2 separate regions of the Homo sapiens genome follow, and region 2 is linked to region 1. The links come from fine-mapping of genetic effects on plasma protein levels. A gene starts in region 1. The other region holds a variant in brackets. All regions are shown on one strand. Distances are between the middles of the regions.

The links. PIP is the chance, under the fine-mapping model, that this variant and not a neighbour inherited with it causes the effect. Protein levels are from antibody-based Olink assays in UK Biobank. Linkage for the fine-mapping came from a reference panel and not from the study's own genotypes, which makes the PIPs less certain.
Region 2: its variant is fine-mapped to the plasma level of the GC protein (UK Biobank, PIP above 0.99).

Annotation. Positions count from the first base shown.
Region 1 is chr4:71,779,177-71,790,304 of GRCh38, forward strand. It overlaps GC (GC vitamin D binding protein), which reads right to left and starts at 4,903. Exons shown (of 13, transcript NM_000583.4): 1 at 4,785-4,903. The coding sequence starts at 4,842.
Region 2 is chr4:71,747,787-71,758,914 of GRCh38, forward strand. It overlaps GC (GC vitamin D binding protein), which reads right to left. Exons shown (of 13, transcript NM_000583.4): 7 at 10,256-10,385; 8 at 8,926-9,128; 9 at 7,192-7,321; 10 at 6,625-6,722; 11 at 4,732-4,864. Among named protein-coding and RNA genes, the nearest start is that of GC, 31 kb to the right of the region's middle. The variant A/G (reference allele first, on the strand shown) is at 4,272.

The DNA.
Region 1 (11,128 bases):
GTTCTATTACTGGGAATTACAGGAAATAACAAAAGTTCTTAATTTCACAAGGCTTGCATTCTATATTTGTTACAATAAGCAAATGAACAACCAGTGATAAGGTAAGGTACTAGGTGCTAAGAAGAAAAAATAAATCCAAATAAGGGGATAGAAGATAATGGACTGGTAGGTGTTATTTGTGGTAGGTTGGCTAGGGAAGCCCCCTCTATAAATGGACTTGGAGTAGATGCCTGAAGAAGGTGAGGAAGGGAGCTATGAGAATATCTGGACAATCAATGTTCTAGGAATAGAGAAGAACTAATGCAAAGCCCTGGGGTGCAAAGGACTTAGAGTGTGAGATAATGTGGAGGCCAGTGTGGTCAGATCAGAATGAATGAGAAAAATAGGAGAGAGAGAGAAGAAGCAATGGGTAGAATGAAGAAGTTAGGTGACCAAAAATACTGGGGAAGGGCATCATCAATTCCTTTTAGAGGTTTCTTCATTTTCTCCTGTCCTAAATAGATTAAGCTGGTGGTGTTTTACAGAGTGTGCACACTTCTCCTTATATTACATATTGGTGACTGCATATGTGGCATTGCACCTGATATCAGTAAGATGAAACATTGCTATTGATTTTCAGGGAGGTTAACATTGCTCTCAGTGATGAGAGCTGTATGACTTCAGCCCTTGCGTAGGGCTGTTTTGACAGGGAAGGAAGAGAAGGAAAAGTGTAGCTCACCCACCAACCCAAAGGGAACTTTCTTCTTGCAGTTTTATATCATGTTTAATAAAAAAAAATGCTGTGAATGAAATGCTTAAAGCAAAAAGGAAAATGTTCATAATAAAAACCTCTTTTTGCCAACAGCTCTTATCAACTGCAGTGGTTTATTTCCTGTTGGCATGATTACCTTAATAATTTTGTAGCTGTGTCACGACCCTCTGATCTTTGACAAACCTGACAAAAACAAGAAATGGAGAAAGGATTCCCTATTTAATAAATGGTGCTGGGAAAACTGGCTAGCCATATGTAGAAAGCTGAAACTGGATCTCTTCCTTACACCTTATACAAAAATTAATTCAAGATGGATTAAAGGCTTAAATGTTAGACCTAAAACCATAAAAACCCTAGAAGAAAACCTAGGCAATACCATTCAGGACATAGGTGTGGACAAGGACTTCATGTCTAAAACACCAAAAGCAAAGGCAACAAAAGCCAAAATTGACAAATGGGATCTAATTAAACTAAAAAGCTTCTGCACAGCAAAAGAAACTACCATCAGAGTGAACAGCAACCTACAGAATGGGAGAAACTTTTTGCAATGTACCCATCTGACAAAGGGCTAATATCCAGCATCTACAAAGAACTTAAACAAATTTATAAGAAAAAAACAAACAACCCCATCAAAAAGTGGGCAAAGGATATGAACAGACACTTCTCAAAAGAAGACATTTATGCAGCCAAAAAACACATGAAAAAAATGCTCATCATCACTGGTCATCAGAGGAATGCAAATCAAAACCACAATGAGATACCATCTCACACCAGTTAGAATGGCAATCATTAAAAAGTCAGGAAACAACAGGTGCTGGAGAGGATGTGGAGACACAGGAACACTTCTACACTGTTGGTGGGACTGTAAACTAGTTCAACCATTGCGGAAGACAGTGTGACTATTCCTCAAGGATCTAGAACTGGAAATACCATTTGACTCAGCCATCTTATTACTGGGTATATACCCAAAGGATTTTAAATCATGCTGCTATAAAGACACATGCACATGTATGTTTATTGTGGCACTATTCACAATAGCAAAGACTTGGAACCAACCCAAATGTCCATCAATGATAGACCGGATTTAAAAAATGTGGCACATATAGACCATGGAATACTATGCAGCCATAAAAAAGGATGAGTTCATGTCTTTTGCAGGGACATGGGTGAAGCTGGAAACCATCATTCTGAGCAAACTATCACAAGGACAGAAAACCACACACCACATGTTCTCACTCATAGTTGGGAGTTGAACAATGAGAACACTTGGTCACAGGGTGGGGAACATCATAGCCTGGGGCCTGTCATGGGGTGGGGAGCAGGGGGAGGGATAGCATTAGGAGAAATACCTAATGTAAATGACGAGTTAATGGGTGTCAGCAAACCAACATGGCACATGTATACATATGTATCAAACCTGCACATTGTGCACATGTACCCTAGAACTTAAAGTATAACAATAATAAAAAAGAAAACTTGAATCGAAAAAAAAGAAAAGAAAAAAATGCAAAAAAAATATTTTTAGTGCTCTGTTAACAGTGTGTAACTTAAAACTGAGAATTTTTTTGCTGTAGTTTAATTTTAAAAAATCAATTTTTATAAATGTTTCCTGGTCATTAAGGTAACTTTTCTATCTGCAAGTTAAAAAAAAATTTTATAGCTGTATCACCAGTCTTTGTTACTTGGTTTCTTTGGAAGGGAAGAGGGAAAGATATATTGTATATTAGTATTTCATCCATTTCAGTCCTAGGGGAAGAAGCTACTTGTAGGCAACTGGGAAATACTGCCTTGTTGCTTTTCATAGGGTAGCAAAAGTGGACATTTTCTTATGGTACTAACCAGATTTAGCAGATTTGGTAAGCTCTCTTCTCCAAGATGTACCCAGTGGCTTGGGAACAAGATTCCCAATGCTGTTTGATAGGAGAGGGCTGGCTTAATTGGAACCTGTCCAGTAAAGGGTCATCTGTAACAGTATCCATTTTAGACCCAAGGTTTCCAAAGAATAGTTCCACAGGTATAGACATTGTAGAAAAGGGTCAATATGTTTAGATACTCTGAGTTAGATAAGATTTCTTTCCTGTAGTGTTTCTCAGAACCTTTAGGACGACAAAGGCATGAATTGTGAAACCACCAAGAAGGAATAAATTATGGCTCATTTCTTAAATATATTTGGCCACAGAAACTTCTTTTCAAGGTAAGTCTTGAGTGTAATATATTTTGAAACAGGTGCTTAAATAAATGCTGTGGGTGGTCAGCTCTCTAGAACTATAACAGGCAGAGAAAACTGCAATTCAAACCAATCCCCCACAATACAAGGCTACTCAGAACCTAAGAGTTCTCAGAACTCCCTTAATCTGTACACTTTGTAACTTCCTGCCAGGAAGAACACAGCTAGCTTCTAAGTAAACTGCTGACTTGGTCTTTGGGTCATGCTCAGGTATTAGAGAATAGAGAATTGATAGATCAGGACTACTCTCCCCAAATATTGAAAGTTAATGCTTACAAGTGTATTATGTATGTCTCAAGATATCATCTGGCATATGGCACATGGGTTATAAGAATGAAGTTTAGATCTTCTAGGGGACTGACTGGAGGTTTTTAGCATCCATTTCATCAGAATCTGAGGACTGCTGAGAATGTTGAAATATAGATTGCAGAATGCTCTGTTATTCTCCAAAGGACACTTTCATTCTTTGAGGTGAAGCCAATGTGCACCTATTGAGTCAGCAGTCTAAGATGGTGATTCATGCTCCTGCTTATGGCCTCCATATATAATTCCAATTCCTAGCCATTATTGGACCTTCTGTGTTTGAAGACCCTGATCTGAACCTGCTTCAGTAGGATTTTTCAGGATCAGATCTGCCCCAGCAAATCCTTGGCCAAAAGAATAAGACTTAAAGGGATTTCTTGGAACATGGCCTATTCAGAGGTCTTATAAGGGACACAATTTATGTTGCTTTTTTATACCCTATGCTGTCTGGGAAAGACTTTGTAGTCTTACCTAAGGACGCATAGCTTACTTAAGAATTGATGGGTAAGACGAGTTAAAATAATTTGAATGATGAAATAAGACCAAGGAAAAGTAAATGTAAGAAGAAGAATAAAAAGTCAAGAGTAAGGTTATTCATGTTACAGTTAATAACTGATAATTCTTGGGAACACACATTTTATTCCACTGGCAAAACACATTACTATTATGAATAATAATGTACGAATTAGGTGAGGCTGTTAACTGACAGCACTAAATGAAAACCTTAATTTTACAAAGCAGGATAAATGCAGATGTCCCTTGTGAACATTAAAGAATCAGCCAGAAAAGTAAATTGAAGCTAATGATGAAAAGTTTCCCAGCTGTAGAATTCATAAAGTTGTATACTTCCCATAATCTCAGTCTTTATCATGTAAAAAAATTTTTAAACATTGCCCAAAGATGAACACACCATCTGAAGAATAATTTCAATGAAAAATATAACTGAATTATCTTATTTGTGGTTATGTTTCATAGCTATAGAAAAATTTTATGTGAGGGATATTTTTAAAAATACAATGCATTTTCAAATACTGCATGTATAAGATTCCTCTAAGGGGATCAAAGAAATCTCTAAGTTGACATCATGCATCATTGGCATGGTATATTACACTCAATGGTAATAAATATTTGAAGTCTGAATAAATGCTTAATGGTGGATCACAGTCTTTATTTGCATTATCTTGTAACAATTAGCAAATGTCTAATTTTAAATTATTCTCTCTAGGTCTTGCTTATCAACAAAGGAGGAAGAGATAATTGACAAATTATATCATTCCATTTACTTTCTTTAACAAGATTCTTGTGTTGATTTTTTTTGTCAATTCCAATTCAACATTACATGGCATCGTGGAGCTCTGATTAATGCCTCTCTGGTCCTTATCCCTCTCCCCAACATATTCACCAGTTCTTCTGTTTCTTACTTTTTATTTCATTTTTTAAGTGATAATATAAAATTAAACTAGTAAGAATTCCTGTAAATGGTCACAACAAAAGAAATCTTACCTCTCTCTAAAGCATGTCCAAATGCCACAGCAAGCAGTAGTACCAGGACCCTCTTCATTTTTCTACCAGAGAGTCTTGCAGCACCTCCTCTCTCCTGTAGGTGACCATGTAAAAGTGGTAGCCAAAAGTAATTGGTTTCCTTTTTACAAAGATTCCTGACTATGAATTAATCAATTATTAATCTCAGAAGCAACACAGAATTATTATTAAACACAGAAGCAAGGGGCTGTTATCTTTGGCCCAAAAGAGATAAAATAATATCAATCAAGGTAAATAGACACCCTGGGGATACTGTAGTGGAAAATCTAGGAGATTTTAATCATTAACTTTGTCAAACTGCAAAAGAGCCAAGGTATATAGATTATTTTCCACTGCTGTTCCTCACTAAAGTTTACTTAATATGTTAGTAACGCACACCTTCTCCCCCTGTATAGGGCTGTGTGTCTTCTTTGGACACCCCACCTTTCTCATATGTAAGTGGAAAATCGGAAACTCTGTCTTTACCTCTCTTCCTCTCTTTGTTTAAATCTACTACAAATAAGCATTACCTTAAAATATTGCAGACCAGATGTTCTAAGTAAAAGGGGAAAAAGAGTGAGAAGCCAATTCAACATAATATTTTAAATCCATAATTCTGATGCTATGAAGTAATCTTATTTTAGATGATGGCATAGTACTTTGTATTTCTATGCTGTATTGCACTTTGTGAAGCACTGACATATATATGAAAAATAACCTTTGAAGTGAGGCAAATAACTGGAGAGGTTAAATGGCTCACCACTGCCAATCATAAAAAGTTAGTGGCAAATCTTGGACTCCCTACAGTGATTTTAAAGCTCCTTCTACTAATAGTTTACAACTAGTATATTTTATGGGCATGTAATTTGAGAGCTCAGAGAGGCCCTGTAGGACATGAAATCCAACATCTTCATTTTACAGAAGAGTGAACTGAGCACTGGGTAAATTCTGTGACTTGTCTAGAGAGTCATAGGTAGATCATTCATTGGAATTAGATGAGTTCCACTCCTGGTTTTTGCAGTAGCCCTATTTTCAGGAAATGGTCAGGTACAGGTTGTTACACATGCTCTAAAATCAAATCCCTACTCAGCTTTCATAGCTGTGTAACCTTGGGAAATTTATTTTACCCCTCTAAGTTTCATTTTCCTCATATGCAATGTGGTGATAACTCAGTACATTTGACACAACATTGCTATGAGGTTAATTAAGGTAATCTGGGTGCAGGGCTCATGGTAACATCCATCACATAGTAACATGGATTAATGTCACCTATTACTCTTATTCTAGTTATTGCCACGTTCTCCCACTGGCTTTCCAAATTTATAATATCTGTGAAGGTCAATGAAACTAATGAGGCCATTGGAACTCAGTGGAAGAGTTTAAAGACAGCCCTGTGTCCAGGGTCCCGCAGATAAGTGATTTAAAACTTCATTATCAACTCAGTAGCCAAGGATTATCTACATGGGCAGAGTCTATCAAAATTTCAGTAAACCAATTTAGGTAGTTACATGTTTAGTCAGATTTTCTATCTATACTGAAAATCCTTGGGTGTTAGGTTCAGAAAATAGAGTCCAGCTAGTTGGAAAAAGATACCTATGCCAGATCAAAGCACAAGTATTTCTGTAAGGCCAGTGGAAATCCATATGGTCAAGGAGATAGCTTTCCTGTCCAAGAGCCAACTCTATCTTGTTCAAGGATCAACTTCCTGATTACTATAAATCTAAATTTTCAGTTCCCTTTGGCTGAATTCCTAGTTTACTGTGCAAGTTAATTTAAAAATGTATTTTAGTTCTATGGCAAATTATTTGGAAATGATACTCCAAATGAGTGTGAAAAAGTTTAAAAACTACTCAGAACCCCGGAACTCAAAAGAGGTAGGTAACACATTAGCATATTGATACAGTTTTCATTTTTCTTTAAGATAATACACTGTATTTATACTTCTGTATCCCTTTTATTCAACTGTATTTCGTCATCTTCTGATTAGTTCATTCAAAAAGACACACTCAGATTATTTTCTACGAATTTTGATACAGAGTTTAAGACCAGCTCATTCTTTCATTTTTTAAAAAATTAAACTTTATCTCTGCTTTTGCAATAATATTTACCACGTTTGTTTAATGATAAACTACATGTAGCAAGAATTGCAACATCTCATTTAGATGCCCTCTTGAGAAATCTCTATACGAGCTGCCAAATGCATTCTCTTGGCTGAATTTTCTAACTGAAATTCGGCAAAACAGGCTAGTAGCTAAATATATGAGCCTTTTTTTCAGTCTTATTTATGTAACTTTCCTTAATCTTTCAAATGTTGATTGCTTACTGTGATTCTAAAACTGGGAAGAAATAATCATAATTGGCCTAAATGAGAGGCCTCATGTGACAATGATTACTCTAGTAAGTCAGATGGGGAAAAAATGGGTGAAAAAGACCAAATCAAACCTTCTCACATTGTCTATAATAGCAGCAGTTATAGCAACTAGAAATGTATCACTGAATATATATATTTAACAAGAATTATTTATTGAATACATAAGCAGTAGAATTTTGCAGGAGCTGTTTTTCCTGTAAAAAACTGATTTGAAGTAGCCTCTTTCCCTCTTTCCTCTTTTTCCATCTTGCCATTGGCTTCAGAGGAAATGCAGATCTCTTCCTAACTAGGGCTAGTTCCAGGCAAAATTGTGAGGCAGATAAAGCCTGTCTTTAGTTCTTTTCTCTATCCCATGTCTCTTCTTTCAGTAAACCTTAGTTACTAAAAGATAACACTGACAACTGCTCTTTATCAGAACAGTACCTTCCTTTAATGCTGCGACAGTCTTCTAAAAACTCTTGCAGTACTCCTGTAGAAATGACCTTCTTCAGAATGATTTTGTCTGGTGTTCTCTTCGTTCAGATTCTCTTTATACTATTAAAATGCATTATCAGTATCTTTTCCTGATAAATGACCTGACAAAATTGATATTAGTGGATCGAAGTAATATCTTTAAAGTTGATGTACAGAGAAGAACAGAACACAATCCAGGTTTCAGAAAATTCTTATAGTTCAGCCATTTAGCTATGATTGACTTCCATGAGAAATTCCAATATCCTTGTAATAAATCTCTTTTTACTTAAGCTTATTCTAGCTGAATTTGCAATGAAAAGCATTCTAACTAACCTACCTTTAAATCATTCTCCCCTCTGTTACTGTCATTATTTATCAAAAATGCAAATAAGACTGTGTTTCTGCCTCCCTATTTAAAATGACTTAGGCCAATGCCTGTGCTTAAAGTTCATAAATTAATCCTACTTACCTCTAAAAAGGATTCTTTGCTGTGTATGTACATTAAAATTAGGTACGGTTGAACTACTTGTGGTTCACTGAACACATTGTGCTATTGAGCTTTCCACTGTCTTTGTTCACATTCTTCTTTCTTCCCTTACTCTATTTTACGTGTCTGTTGTCCCTCGTCTGTCAGTCTTTCATTTATTCATTTAACATATATTTAATTCATACCACTTTGTACCAAGTAACATGCAAGCTATTGGTACTACCATATCAAAAGATCTACATGGCTCTTCCCCTCATGGACCTTCTTAGTCTAGCTGGGAAGACAGATGTTGAAGACAAAATGACAAGTGTGCTGAGTTGTGAGGGTGCAGAGAATGGGAGGGGTAAGAGTAGATACAGTGAGAGTAGCTTGAAGACTGCTTTAGAAGTCCAAGCAAGGGATGACAGAAGTGTGGCCTGTGGTGCTGGCAGAGGCGTGAGATGGTTTAAGACACAGAATCATCAGAGAGTGGTAATTGACTAGACTTTGGCTGAGGGGGGAAGAGTGAGAAATTATGCCCAAGTTTCTAGCTTGTGCAAGTGGATGGATATTAATGCCAATATCCAAAATAGAAGACACTGAAGAAGACACACAGTCTGATGGAAGATGTTTTCAGGTGGAATTTTGAGTAGGCAGCTGGGTCCATGACTCTGGAGCTTGGAAGACACCCAAATTTCCAGGTTGTGCTGAGTCCACCTCCTCTGTGCTTTGCTCTCCCACAGTGCTCCTACTATAGCTAAATCACCTTCATTTTGGTATTCCCAACAGCTAGCACAGCTAGCACAGATAGAAACTGAATGTAGTAAACACTAGTCATAATCAGTTTAATGAAGGAATTTAAATGCCTAGAGAAATTTATCAACCCTGGATTTAAAAATGAAAGACATGCTAGAATTCTGTAATTCGTTTATGCTCACTGAAATCCAGGTATAATTTGAGTAATCATGGTTTTCATGAACCAGCCAATTCATTTTTAATTTTACTTGGATTTTCATGAAAATCTGCAAATGATTTATTCATATTTTAAAACAATAGGGGCGGTTATAGAAATATATTCCACAGAGTGCAGGAGTTCAGAAAATGCTGACAAATATAAATGAATTTATTAACCAAATGGTTTCATTTATTTTAAAATAAAAATTTGAGGAACAATTAGAGATAAATTGTCTTCTGCCATGATGCTCTTTACTAAGGCTGTAGTAGTTTATGAGGTCTTGTATAACAAACTGCCAAATAACCATAACTTTCCCAAAAACACTTCCATAAAGAAATATACATCACTGAAGAGAAACAGATATTTAAGAGAAATGATGGTTCAGACTAGATGCAAATGATTTTATCTTCTGCTTGAAAAAAAGCAGAAAGGGAGAAAGAAGGAAAGAAAGAAAGAAAAGAAAGAGAAAAAAAGAAAAAGAAAGAATGAGAAAGAAAGAAAGAAATTGAAAATAGAATTTAAAAAATAGTGCAGGAACAAGGTTTATATGAGACTTAGCTGATAATCACAGAGAGGCAGCTACACCTCTTTCCACCTTTATTGGTCAATGGAATGCAGAATGCCATAATAATCACTGTTAAATATATAGTCATAACTAGTTAACTGTGAGCTAAATGTTCTTAAGTAAAATATTTAGGTTCTTAGTATTCTTAAGTAAAAATATTTAGGTTCAGTTAATTAAAAAATGGTTTTATAATAATTTTTTAATGAACTATTTTCCAACACTGAAGCCAGGTAATTTGTAGAAACAGGTCTGAATATTAAAACTGTGTAATTACTTTTACAAGTATTGACAATTGTAGTATATTTTTGCATTATGTATAGAGAGAAAGAGAAGCAGAAGGTGATAAAGAGAAAATGAGAGAATCGAGAAAAGAAGAGAATAAAAGATAAAATATAATATGTGAGAGAATGAGAAAATAAGCCAATATATCCTAAAACATTCATATGTGAACCACCCTGATAGATGTCCCCAAATGTACATATATACATTTAGATTTTAAATATATATATTTCCAGGAATAGAATGGAGTCCTAAAAAATAGAACAAATGTTAATTTTCATAGCCTGGCTAATCTTTGTTAAGAGCTTCTAATAATGCTGTTTTATGTACATTCTCTAATGAACAGGACTCTAAAGAGGAAGGACTGGCAATCTGAATAAATAAAGCTGACCCTTAACTTGGGTTATATGAGTGAGTTTTAAAAAGTTTTCAGGATCATATTGCAAAATAAGTTAAAATATTAGATGATCTAATAGATTCTCTATACTGAAGGAGAAATGAATTTTCTCAGTTTTCAGGAATTTCTTTTCAGAGCCATCTATAAAGTCAGGAAAAGGCAGAATAATGGCCGACCAAAGTTGCCCACACCCTAATCCCTGCAACCTGTAATTCTGTTATGTTACCTGGCAAGGGGGAATTGAGGTTGCAGATAAAATTAATCAGTTTACTTTAAAATACAGGGATTTTCCTGGATTATTAGGGTGGGCTCAATGTTATCACAAAGGTCCTTTATGTGTAGAAGAATGAGGCAGAACATCAGAGTGAAAGAGATGTGAGAAAGAAAGCAGAGGTTGGAGGGATGGGATTGCTGACTTTGAAGATGGAAGGAATCTGTGAGCCAAGAAATGCAGGCAGCCCCTAGATGCTGGAAAGGGCAAGAAAATGGAAAGGAGTGTTAAAATCTCCAATTCCCATTGAGAATTTTAGCACTTCCCCTTGTAGTTTTTAGTCTATTGTGTTTTTGCTTCTTGAAATTTGAAGCTCTGTTATTATACACATACAGAATTTTAATGATTATCTTTCTGATAAGTTATTCCTTTGGTCAGTATGTCCTTCTTTATCTATGATAATACTTTGTCTCGAAATCTGTTTTGTCTAATACTATTAGGTGGGTGCAAAAGTAATTGTGGTTTTTGCCATTAAAAGTCATGTTCTTATTTAGTAGTTTTGCCATTACTTACAATGGTAAAAACCATTTTGCACCAACCAAAAAAACTTTTGCAACAACCTAATAATA
Region 2 (11,128 bases), 31 kb before region 1:
GAAGAAGAGTAACTTTAATACAAATTAGACAGAGCTGGCAAAAATGTTGACACAAAAGAAGAGAGTATGTCTAATGGAGGAAGAGTCCAAGGAAGTGAGATGGATAAAATTCACAGCGATATTACCAACCTGGTATCATTTTTGCTACTTAAAAATAATTTTGGATTTTCAGTCAATAGTCTTCTATCAATAGTTTGCTTTTGTCATGACTAGCTAAGTTAGGGCTGACGTCTATGACAAGGACATTGAGGGAGAGTAACAGACTAATACAGAATAAATTTAGATTTTTCTAACATCATATAACCTCTGTAAGTTTCATTCAACCCATCTGTAAAAGGGGGAATTAAAATATTAATTAACATCTAGAATTGTTTTGGGTTATTCTATAAATACATACATGCCAGGCTATTAATATTTCTGCTTAACAAATAGCAATGGCTTAATCAATGATAGCTATGACACTGAAGATTATAAAATCAAGTTATACTGAGAGATAAAACAAACTACAGTGACTATACTAGTTTTTCCTGACACAAGAAAGACAGGTGGTGGGGGGTAGACAGTATATCACTCTACTTGTCAGTCTCCTCTTTGCCCGGCTTCCACTTGGCTATTTGTATTTGTCTCTGTGTTTTTAAGATTTTAGTGATCAATTCCAGCATATTACAATGACTTTTGGAATACTTTGGGAAATCATATCTGATGCTCACTAGCAGTCTGTTGAAACATTTTAAAGGAAGCATAGTAATGAGTTCTCAGAAGAGCCCAAAGGGATGCCCTGCCTGAATGATGGTAGAAAGAGAAAAGAAGATTTCAAGTCTAATTTTGTAACTATAGGTTTTTCTGTAGGCAAATGGGTCTTTTTTGGCATAAACAAATGAACCACTTCTAAGAGTGCCATGGTAAAGCCAAAAGAAAATGACATTGATTGTTCTATTTCCTGGTCATTTCAAGATTGGGTGAGGATAGGGGTAGATACCCATGTAATGAAACACTAAGTATGGTTCAGAAGCCCCTTTTCCCAGTCTTCCAGTAGTTGTGCCAAGTGTATTTGGAATGACAAGTAGAGACTGATCCCTGGATATAAGTGACTTGCAGTGAAAGGAGTAGATGGATATTACTTTTAAGGAAAAGTTTTTTCAAGCAAATGTATGACAAGGAGATCTCACAAATTAGGATCCAAATATTATAGGACAAATGGGACATTCACGTTAGGCATTGGAAATTAAAGAGAATGCTGTTCAAACAGATGTTGCACTAAAGTAAAGTCAGAAAGGAGGGGTGAGCTTGCCTACCTAGCTATGAGATCAGTTTACAAAGGCAATCAGAGGGCTAATTGAAATAGCAGAGGATTTAATCTCTGTGTACTCTGAATAATCAAATGTGCACAAGTATCTCAACAACTCCATTCATCGCACTCTACTTTAGCAATTACTGAAAGGCTACTCAGCTGCTATAAATTTACTGTCGATAAAGCAAGAAGTGAGAGAGCTACAAACCTGTCTTCTCATCATTGTAATGATTTGAATGGCAATATGTTATATTGAAAACCAACTCAAAGAAATGAAAAACCAGGGGCTTTTAGGAAGCATGAATTTGCGCTTAAAGCTCAGTTTGTCTTGTATGGTGTCAGGCAGGACAGTGCATATCTGTATAGACAGATAACAAAGGGACAGGGAAAGGTTTCAAAAGTGATATTTCTTATAGAATCTAAAAGACATTTAGACTGTTTTCTTCTTCTTTCGTAATAACAGACTCTCAGAGAAAATTTTTCTGGTAGCAAACAACTTCTATGTAAGGTGATTTTATTTTTCTAGGTTAAGGCCACCTAAATTGGAACTAAATTTAGATTACTAAAAGCAACTTGGTATGAAAAGAAAGAACTGTTCAATTTAATTAATTATTTTATGCTAAAAATGTTTTAATGACCAAAATATTCTGACAATCCAGCTTCTTCTGTTTTTATGTTGAGAATCTTAAGTAGTTTGAATTTTAATGAAAGATTAAGATGGCATATTTGTCAGGAGAATTTAAAGAAAAGGCTTTTATTCTACCGTACTCTCTTCATCTGGAATTCTGACTTTATAAATTGTTACAAACAAGATTAGCAAATAGGTTTGGGACCAGAGTGTAAATATGGAAATTAGAAAAGAAACCAGAATCCCTAAGGTTATAAGGAAGAAATTAGAAAAAGATGTAGCTCCATTTGTCAAACTAAGACTTTTTTCTTAGGCACTGTACAATAAAATAAAACAAAACAAAACATAACAAAACAAATAAAACTTTACTAAAATATGGATATTAAGAAATTTGGAATGCATAGCCCAAGACTTTAAAAAAATACTTTACACAGCTTAATTTTTAAAAAGTCACTTCAAGTATAAAAGAGCTGCTATTGCGAACAGAGAATAGACATTTTCTAGTTGATAGAGAAAGCCAGGGTGATTGCAGGAGAAATTACAAAGGGAATATCACAGCTTAATTTATAGAAGAATGTTCTCATAATGCAGCTACCTGGCAATGAAATAGGCCATTTCCATTTCTACTCTTAGGAGTAGATAAATTGACTATAGAAATTTAAATGGAGGCTGAATGCACCTCTAGAAGGAATTAACTGAGTGAGAAATTACACTAGATGATCTTTATAGTTTTCTTTGAACATTTATACTTTCGTGACTTGCTTTTTTAAAAATTAAGTTCTTGGGTATTTTTAAATGCAGTCTAATAGAAACTGGGCTTTATTGCTTTCGTGGCTGATAAATGAACAAAACTTCAGGTAAATTCTTAAATTATTTCACTTATAGAAAGGGCCTTCTGGCCGGGCGCAGTGGCTCACACCTGTAATCTCAGCACTTTGGGAGGCTGAGGCGGGTGGATCACTTGAGGTCAGGAGTTCCAGATCAGCCTGGCCAACATGGTGAAACCCTGTCTCTACCAAAAATACAAAAATTAGCTGGGCGTGGTGGTGGGCACCTATAATACCAGCTACTCGGGAGGCTGAGGCAGGAGAATCACTTGATCCCAGGAGGTGAAGTTTTCAGTGAGCCAAGATCTCACCACTGCACTCCAGCCTGGGTGACAGAACGGGACTTCATCTCCAAAAAACAAACAAACAAAAAAAAAACGGGTTTAAGGGCTTCTAATTCTAATTGGCATGAAATCATTTAACCTAAGTATCATTTGGTATGGCATAGAATTGTTCCTAACCCTGCCTCTATATTTCAGAAATAGAGTGGGCAAGACAACACAATTCTTGGAGTTATTACTAATGTCTCCAAATAAGCAGTAAAGTGAAATGAAGTGCTGTTTTTATCTTTTGACTCTTCTAAAAAAATGAAATGCTTGCTGGAGAGTAACAGGTAAAATGGAGGATGTGAACGTATGGGCTGACATTTTCTGAAAAAGGCCAGCAAAATACACCCCTCACCGTGAAAATAGGGCAGATGCTGACTTGGTGAAAGAAATCTTAGCATAAGACACTTGAAATCTCAGAAGTCGAAGCATAGCTCAGGTCTACTAACAATGGGCCCACACAACCTACCTGAGGTCTCCTCCCCTCTCTCACACCTTCAGTCTATATAAAGATGGGCAGAATACAAGATACCAACCTAACACTGTGGTTTATAGGAGAAAACCAATAGGCCTCAGATGTGGTGATTAGATAAACACTAATTCATCTATTAATACTATCAGAGAAAACAAAAAGGTTTGGCCAGAACTGCTGGTGTTTTGCACAAATTAAAAAATAAATGATCTGGCAATTATGCAAATACATTTATGGGAGAGAAGGGGAAAGAGAGAAAGGAGGAGGGGAATAGGGGAAGGGGTTATTTTACTGTTAACAATATTGGACCTGAACCAGGAAGCGGGAGGGGAAGGAAGAAAAAGGGGAGACAGGGAGGAGGGGAAGGGACATTTAAAGAAAGATGAATCCAAGAACTATCCAAAATTGAGGGGAGTAGGGAGGGAAACTGGAAGATATATAGGACTTCTAATATCTTTAGCTTTCAGAGTTTGGAGACAATTGATAGTGTCTAAAAAAGAAATTCGTAATAAAAAATGACTAAAATTTTAATATTCTTTAAAATCATTTTTTAGTTTTTAGAAAATAACTCTTATAGTAATGAAACATTTATGTGACCTTTAGAAATTCTTCAGTTGCATTTTTTTCTTATGTCATATTAAAACAAAGTTAAATAATATTTTTATAATTAACATATTAATAGAAGGTATGATATGACCCCATTTTTCTAAAGTATTTATTTTTATCA[A/G]TCTACCTGCCTATATATGCATATGTATGTATCTACATAAACACACATACAGATATATGAAATACAATTTACCTTCACTATGTGAAGGTAATGAACTCTGATGTTCTCACTGTATTCTTATTCTTCTCTTTTTCATTTAAATAGGCTGTTACTAGGTTACAACTCACAATTTGTAAAACACTACACATACTTTGTTGCCTGTGTTCACAGACTCTTTTGTTTCTTAAAAAAAGTATAAAATTTCCTAAGTTTTACAACTACCTCAACTTGCTTTTAAATGAGCATAGCATGAAATCAGTTATGTTTCTTACTTTCATTGCAAAGACAGCCAAGTTACAATAACACCAGGAAAAGCCTGTCACATAATGGCATCTCAATAACAGGAAAGAAATGAGTAGATTGGAGTGCATACGTTCTTAAAAGATTCTGCCATGTTAAGTGGAGGGTTACATTTTCCTACCTCTGAATCACAGTAAAGAGGAGGTGAGTTTATGGAACAGCAGTTGGAGGCAAAGTCTGAGTGCTTGTTAACCAGCTTTGCCAGTTCCGTGGGTGTGGCATCAGGCAATTTTGCTTTTAGTCGCTCTGCCAGTCTGAAAAACCATTTAAATGTAAGGTCTTACTACATGTATTTATTTTATACAAATTTCTAATGCAAAATAATAGCCATTTCAGATCTTTTACAATAAAAATGAAAATAGAAATACTTGCCTGTCTCAAGAAAATTCTATACCTGTGGTATAGAATAGTCAATTTGAGATCAGAAAGTGAAACATGCCTCTTCGAGATCATAAAAATAAACATACAAATCGCTGCTGAATTGGAAGTCCAGTCTTCTTTCATTTGCTCATTATTTCAAAATGGAAGAGTACCTCTTCTATTTTATCCTAACCTTTCACCTTCTCTTCAGTTTTAAATTTCAAATTCCTTAAAGAATATTTCCTTTACAGGACCTCATACCAGCTTAATGCCTTTTTTTCCTCTCATAATTTATATAATTTCACCCTCAATTTATCTACTTCTCAACTCACTATGTTGGAAAACACCAATACAGGAGTAAGGAAATTTTCGCTCTTATTTTTAGCTCTACTAAAAACGAACTCTCCATTTCTCTTTCAGGATGGTGATAAGACTTGATATCTCCTGATTCTTTCAATTTGTACAATCGATGATCTCGGCGTCTCTCCACTCCCATGAACAACTCAGCCTGGTTTTATGACTTTCTTCAGGAAATGCTTGCCAGCCCAGCGGGGGGCAATGGGAGGTAAGGAGACTCAAATTAATCTAGAGTTGGGCTTGGCAAGAGTGGATGCTGGGAAGGGACAAAAGGGTAAGGGGGACCAGTTAGTTCATAAAAGCATTGTTGAAACAAGTAGGTTTGAGCTGCCGGGGGGTGCAAATGAGGCAAGAAGAGACTCAAAGGAGGCAAAAAAAAAAAAAGAAAGTTGGGGGGAGGAGGGAATAGGATCTGAGAAATTTACTAACGTTAGGAAAAATGACATGGTCTTCTCAATGGAGACTTTCCCCAAGAACCCAGTACCACTTCTTACCTTATTGTGGCCTATTATTTTACTGTTAATGTCTATTTATAGAGAAATGCTTTTTCCTTCTCTTAATTGAGAAAAATGACTATTATATAACATTATTGGTAGTTAACATTTCTATTTCTAATTTATAGGGAATATATGCTGGTGATAGCTGACAGTATGCTTGATTGAAAGTTTGGGTCTTCTTGCCAGGCAATATGCCATGAAGTTAGATAACATTTTTAGCAGTTTTATAGGTCCTCAATTTTGTACAGCAATATCTACAGAAAATTCTGGGGTAAGAATGTTGCTAAGCTATGTGCTCATTTTGCCATTTTGACTCAAGTTCCTGCAGATAGATTTCGTCATCTATATTTTTATGGCTGTTTTAATTGGCCACCCACTTGCTACACATGACATGTTTCCTCCAGAAAAACTTAGCTTCTTCTTATACAGATGTTAGATTCCAACTACTTTTAAAAAAATAAAATGATTTAGGGGGTACAAGTGCATTTTTGTTACATGGATGTATGGCATAGTGGTGAAGTCTAGGTTTTTAGTATAATCATCACCCAAATAGTGTACATTGTATCCAATAGGGAATTCCTTATCCTTCACCCCTCTCCTACCCTCCCACCTTTTGGGGTCTCCAGTGTCTATTATTCCACTCTATGAGATTCTGACTACTTTAAAAAACTCCTAATTGAACCTCCTTTTGTTGTTGTTCACTGAAGACAAGCTTAAGTGTTCAACTATGCTTTCAATTCATAGTACTATGAAAATATTATTGATAAATTTGGAGGATACAGCCAGAACAAGTTTCTTACTTTTTCTTGTACTCAGTAAATGTATTTTCTGAATAATCTGCACATAGTTCTTGTCCCTTGTCAATGAAAGAAGATAGTTCCTTCTTTAGTAGAGGGCCCTGTAAGAAAACAATAATTGCATAACAAAATTATTTGTCTTGAAACCTTGTCCCATCAAGCCATTAAATCAAAATTCCAAATATTGTATCATTAAGCATTGGCAACTATTTTCTACAGAAGGCCGGATAATAATTTTAGGGTTTGCAGGCCATATGTGGCCTTTGTTGCAACTACTCAACTCTGTACAGAAGCAGTTGTAAGCTTTGCAGAAACAATGAGGATGATTGTGTCCCAGTGGAAGTTAATGTATGTATGAACACTGAAATTTGAATTTTGAATAATTTTCATGGGTCATGAGATACTGATGTTCTTTTGCTTTTTTCCCAACAATGTAAAAATGTAAAACCATTCTTCTGTTCTTAGTTTGTAGGCCATAAAAAAGTAGGCAGTGAGCAAGTTTTGGCCCATGAACTATAATTTTCCAACCCTTGATCTATGTGCTTGATAAAGAAAATCCAACAAATATACCTTAGCATTAAAACAGGTAGTTGAGTCTTCAACATCACAGCATTCACCAAGGCTTTTTAGGGTTGGCTCAAGTACCTTACTGAGGAATACTTCCGGAAGATGAGTCCTTCTGCTTAGTTCAAATGTATACCTAGCATGAGGGAGAAAAGGAGATATGTGTTATATATTTCCTATTTATTTATTTATTTATTTATTTATTTTTTGTGACAGAGTCTCCCTCTGTCACCCAGGTTGGAGTGAAGTGGTGCCATCTTGGCTCGCTGTAACCTCTGCCTCCTGGGTTCAAGCGATTCTCATGCCTCAGCCTCCCGAGTACCTGGGATTATAGGCGCCCACCACCATGCCCGGCTAAGTTTTGTATTTTTAGTGGAGACAGGGTTTCACCATGTTGGCTAGGGTGGTCTGGAACTTCTGACCTCAAGTGATTCGCCTGACTCGGCCTGCCAAAGTGCTGGGATTAGATGGATGAGCCACTGTGCCTGGCCTACATTTTAAAATGTGAAATATCTATCATAAAGGCAGAGCACCTGGTTTCTGCATCTTAATTAAAAAGAAGAGATTTAGCTCAGACTGACTCTAAATCAACAGGCTTTGGATTATAAAATACTTTCATTGAGATACAAGCTATTAATACTTGCTATTGTGACTAGTCAATACTGAATTAAAGCTTTGCATGTAATATACATTTAAATATATTATATGTAAACATATCTACTTCAAATGCATATGGAACTGTCTTTGTGCAAGCATAATGCAATTGACTCTGTATAAAGCATCAAGTGGATACTTCAAAAGGCTTTTCTGTGAAAATTGGTTTGTGTAAATTCCTTCATTATGTCTTACCCCACTGCTGTCTATGCACTTATAAAAGCAATACACATTTAGAAAAATGTAAAGTTTCAGTCCTATGTAACTTCTACCATCTGATATTGCTAATTGATATTTCAACCTGCTGCTTCAAACTATTTGTGAAATATTTTTATGCCATCATTATGCATACACATCTATTCAAACCATGGTATATTTTTAACTTACTTTTTTTTAGTTGGATGAAACAGGATAAAAGTTTACCATTTCTTTGCATTAAATCTCTTTTTAAATTTAATGAAAATGAATATTGATAATGCTAAGAAAAAAATATTCTGTGCTTGGTATCTCTTTTATTTGTATCAAATGCTTATTGTCCAAAAGTTTAGTATACTTTAGGCTTTTGATTTGTGACTTTGAACCAGAAGTAATATGATAAAACTAGTTAATAATATTATAAACATTTCTGGTTGCATGATATATTTTACATGTGTTCAGCATTGTATGCAAATATGTGTTTTCACATTTACTTTCACTTACATTTCTACATGCATTTCTCATTAGCAGTCTGTGTGCTAAGTAAGGCAAGAGTTAACATTTCCAAATTAATTAACAATAGGCTGAAGTTCAGAATTATCAAGTCACTTCTTTTGGCCATGCACAGGAAACAGAGAAGGCACAATTAGGAACTCTAAGCTCCTTTCTCACTACCCAAAATCTTTCTATCACACTCGATTATGGTGTTTTAAAAATTTTAGTCATTTACAATTAATTAACAAATACTTAAAGTCCATGAAAAGCATAAAGGTAGTACTTTGCCTATGTTTGAAATGAGTGATAGCATACCTTCCCTCCATCTGGCTGGCCCCCACTTTTTGTCCAGATGAACTTAAAATGGGAAAACGTTTTCACATCACCTCTACTTACTTATCCATGACTTTGGTGTTTCCTGGATCACACACATCTTTGTTTGTGGGCAACTCTACATCTGGAAGCTCGGGGAGTTGGGCAGCTGGCATGAAGTAAGTGCACACAAAAACGTCCATGGCTGTTTTTTCTTGACAACAGTCTTCAAACTTAGAATTCTTTGTGGATAAATTGTCACAGAGTTTTACTGTGTGTTCAGGCAGCTACAAAACGAATGGTTAGTTTGTGCATTGTTAGTTTCCTGATAGTCTAATTAAAAATAAGAATTACATAGGCTTACAAGCTTTGGCATCACATTTATGAAAGTCAGTATGAAGACTCTCAGAAAGAAAATTGGTACAATATTTGGAAAGGCAGTTTGTCAATATGTACTAAAAGTCTTAAAAATGTACAATTCTATTTTTAAGAATTTATACTCAGAAAATAATTGTAGATAAAACGACAACAACTATAAGGCTATTAAGTGCAACGATTGCCTAAAATATTTTAAAAAAACCAACACAACCTAAATACAATAGAGGATTAGTAAAATAAAAATATGGTGTGTCTAGATAGATAGATGTAATACATGACATGGATATAGGCAACAGAGTCCTATTTAGCCATTATAAATCCTTATAGAAAAGCATCTATTAACACAGACATGCATTTTTAATGGAAAAAGACAAGGCAACACAATGTATCTATTACTACAGAGATTGACAAGATCTTGGAGACTGACCTTCAGCTAAAGCAATTATTCAAATTTAAATAGTTTTAAAGGATTATGAAAATGAAAAATGGTAAAAAAAATTGAGATGGGCATCAAATTATAAAAAGTATAATAAAAACAGTAGTAGCGTCTACTAGTATAATGGTTGAAGTGCCGCTTAATGGAACTTTACGCAATAATGAAAATGATCTGTATTTGCACTATCCAATACCATTGTGCATTTGAAATGTGGTTAGTGTAACTGAAGAACTGAATTTTAAATCATATTCAACTTAAACATATATGTTTAACTTTAACTATAATTAAATTTAAATGACCATATGTGGTAATGAATACCATACAGTGCAAGTAGCATAAGGTCTTGGAAATCAGATAATCTCATCTTTGCATATGGACTTTGCCACCTACTAGTTGTGTGGTAACAAATTATTGACCCTTACTAATCTTCTGTTTTCTCACCTGTACAGTGATGTTAATAATTATTTATATTTCATAGAATACATGTAAGCATCCGTTAGGATAATGCATATGAAATAGAACTTAGAAGAGTACCTGCCACTCAGTACTTGGCACTCAATACCTGGCACATGGTGATAATGATAATAAAGCTTGTCTTACCTCTTTGGCCATGCAATCTTCAGAGGCAGACTCACAGCATTTGGAGAGGATGTTAGTAATATCTTCAGCTAGTGGCAAAACATCCTCCAGATCAGCAGTAGGCACTTTTTGGGCTAACTTTATGAGATTGCTAAACAGTTAAAAATAAATATGTTAGCTTATCAACATTCTCAGTTTTCTTGGTTTCGTGATGAACGCACTATTTGGAGAAATAATATCACAATTTCACCTCCTTGGCCTCAAGAGATGCATGGGAGCACATCTGCCATGCGATAGATCTTATGTACCCAAGCCACAGACTCAAGATCAAGAGATCCCTAATGAATCTTTCCAAATTTTCAGTACCCAAATGCAGCTTCTCTTCTTGCCAGATATACATAGTGAAAGCACTCCTTTAAAATGTTAGATCTAAAGCATCAATGAAGAAGTCACAAATGTCTCTTTCTATTCATAAGGCCAATGTTGTATTTTTGTGGCCTCTCACAGAGTTGTAAAAGTGTGTTTTATAAATTCTTTTAGAAACTATAGAGACCTGTAGCTTTACACCACAGAGTTAACAAATGTTCACATTTTGGGTGTGTAACCTTTCAGTATTTTATGTGTGAATGGTATGCTATACTATTCTCATATTTGCCTTTTTCACTTAATATACCAGGAATAACATTAAATATTTTTTCAATATTAATATTCCTAATATATCATGAATATGATTAAATATTATTTTAAAAAATTGTGGTGAAAATGACATTAAATTTACTATCTTGACCATTTTTAAGGTATACATTCAGTATTTAAGTATATTTACATTGCTTTGCAACAGATCTCTAGAAATTTTTCTCATGCAAAACTAAAACTCTGTACTCATTAAACACT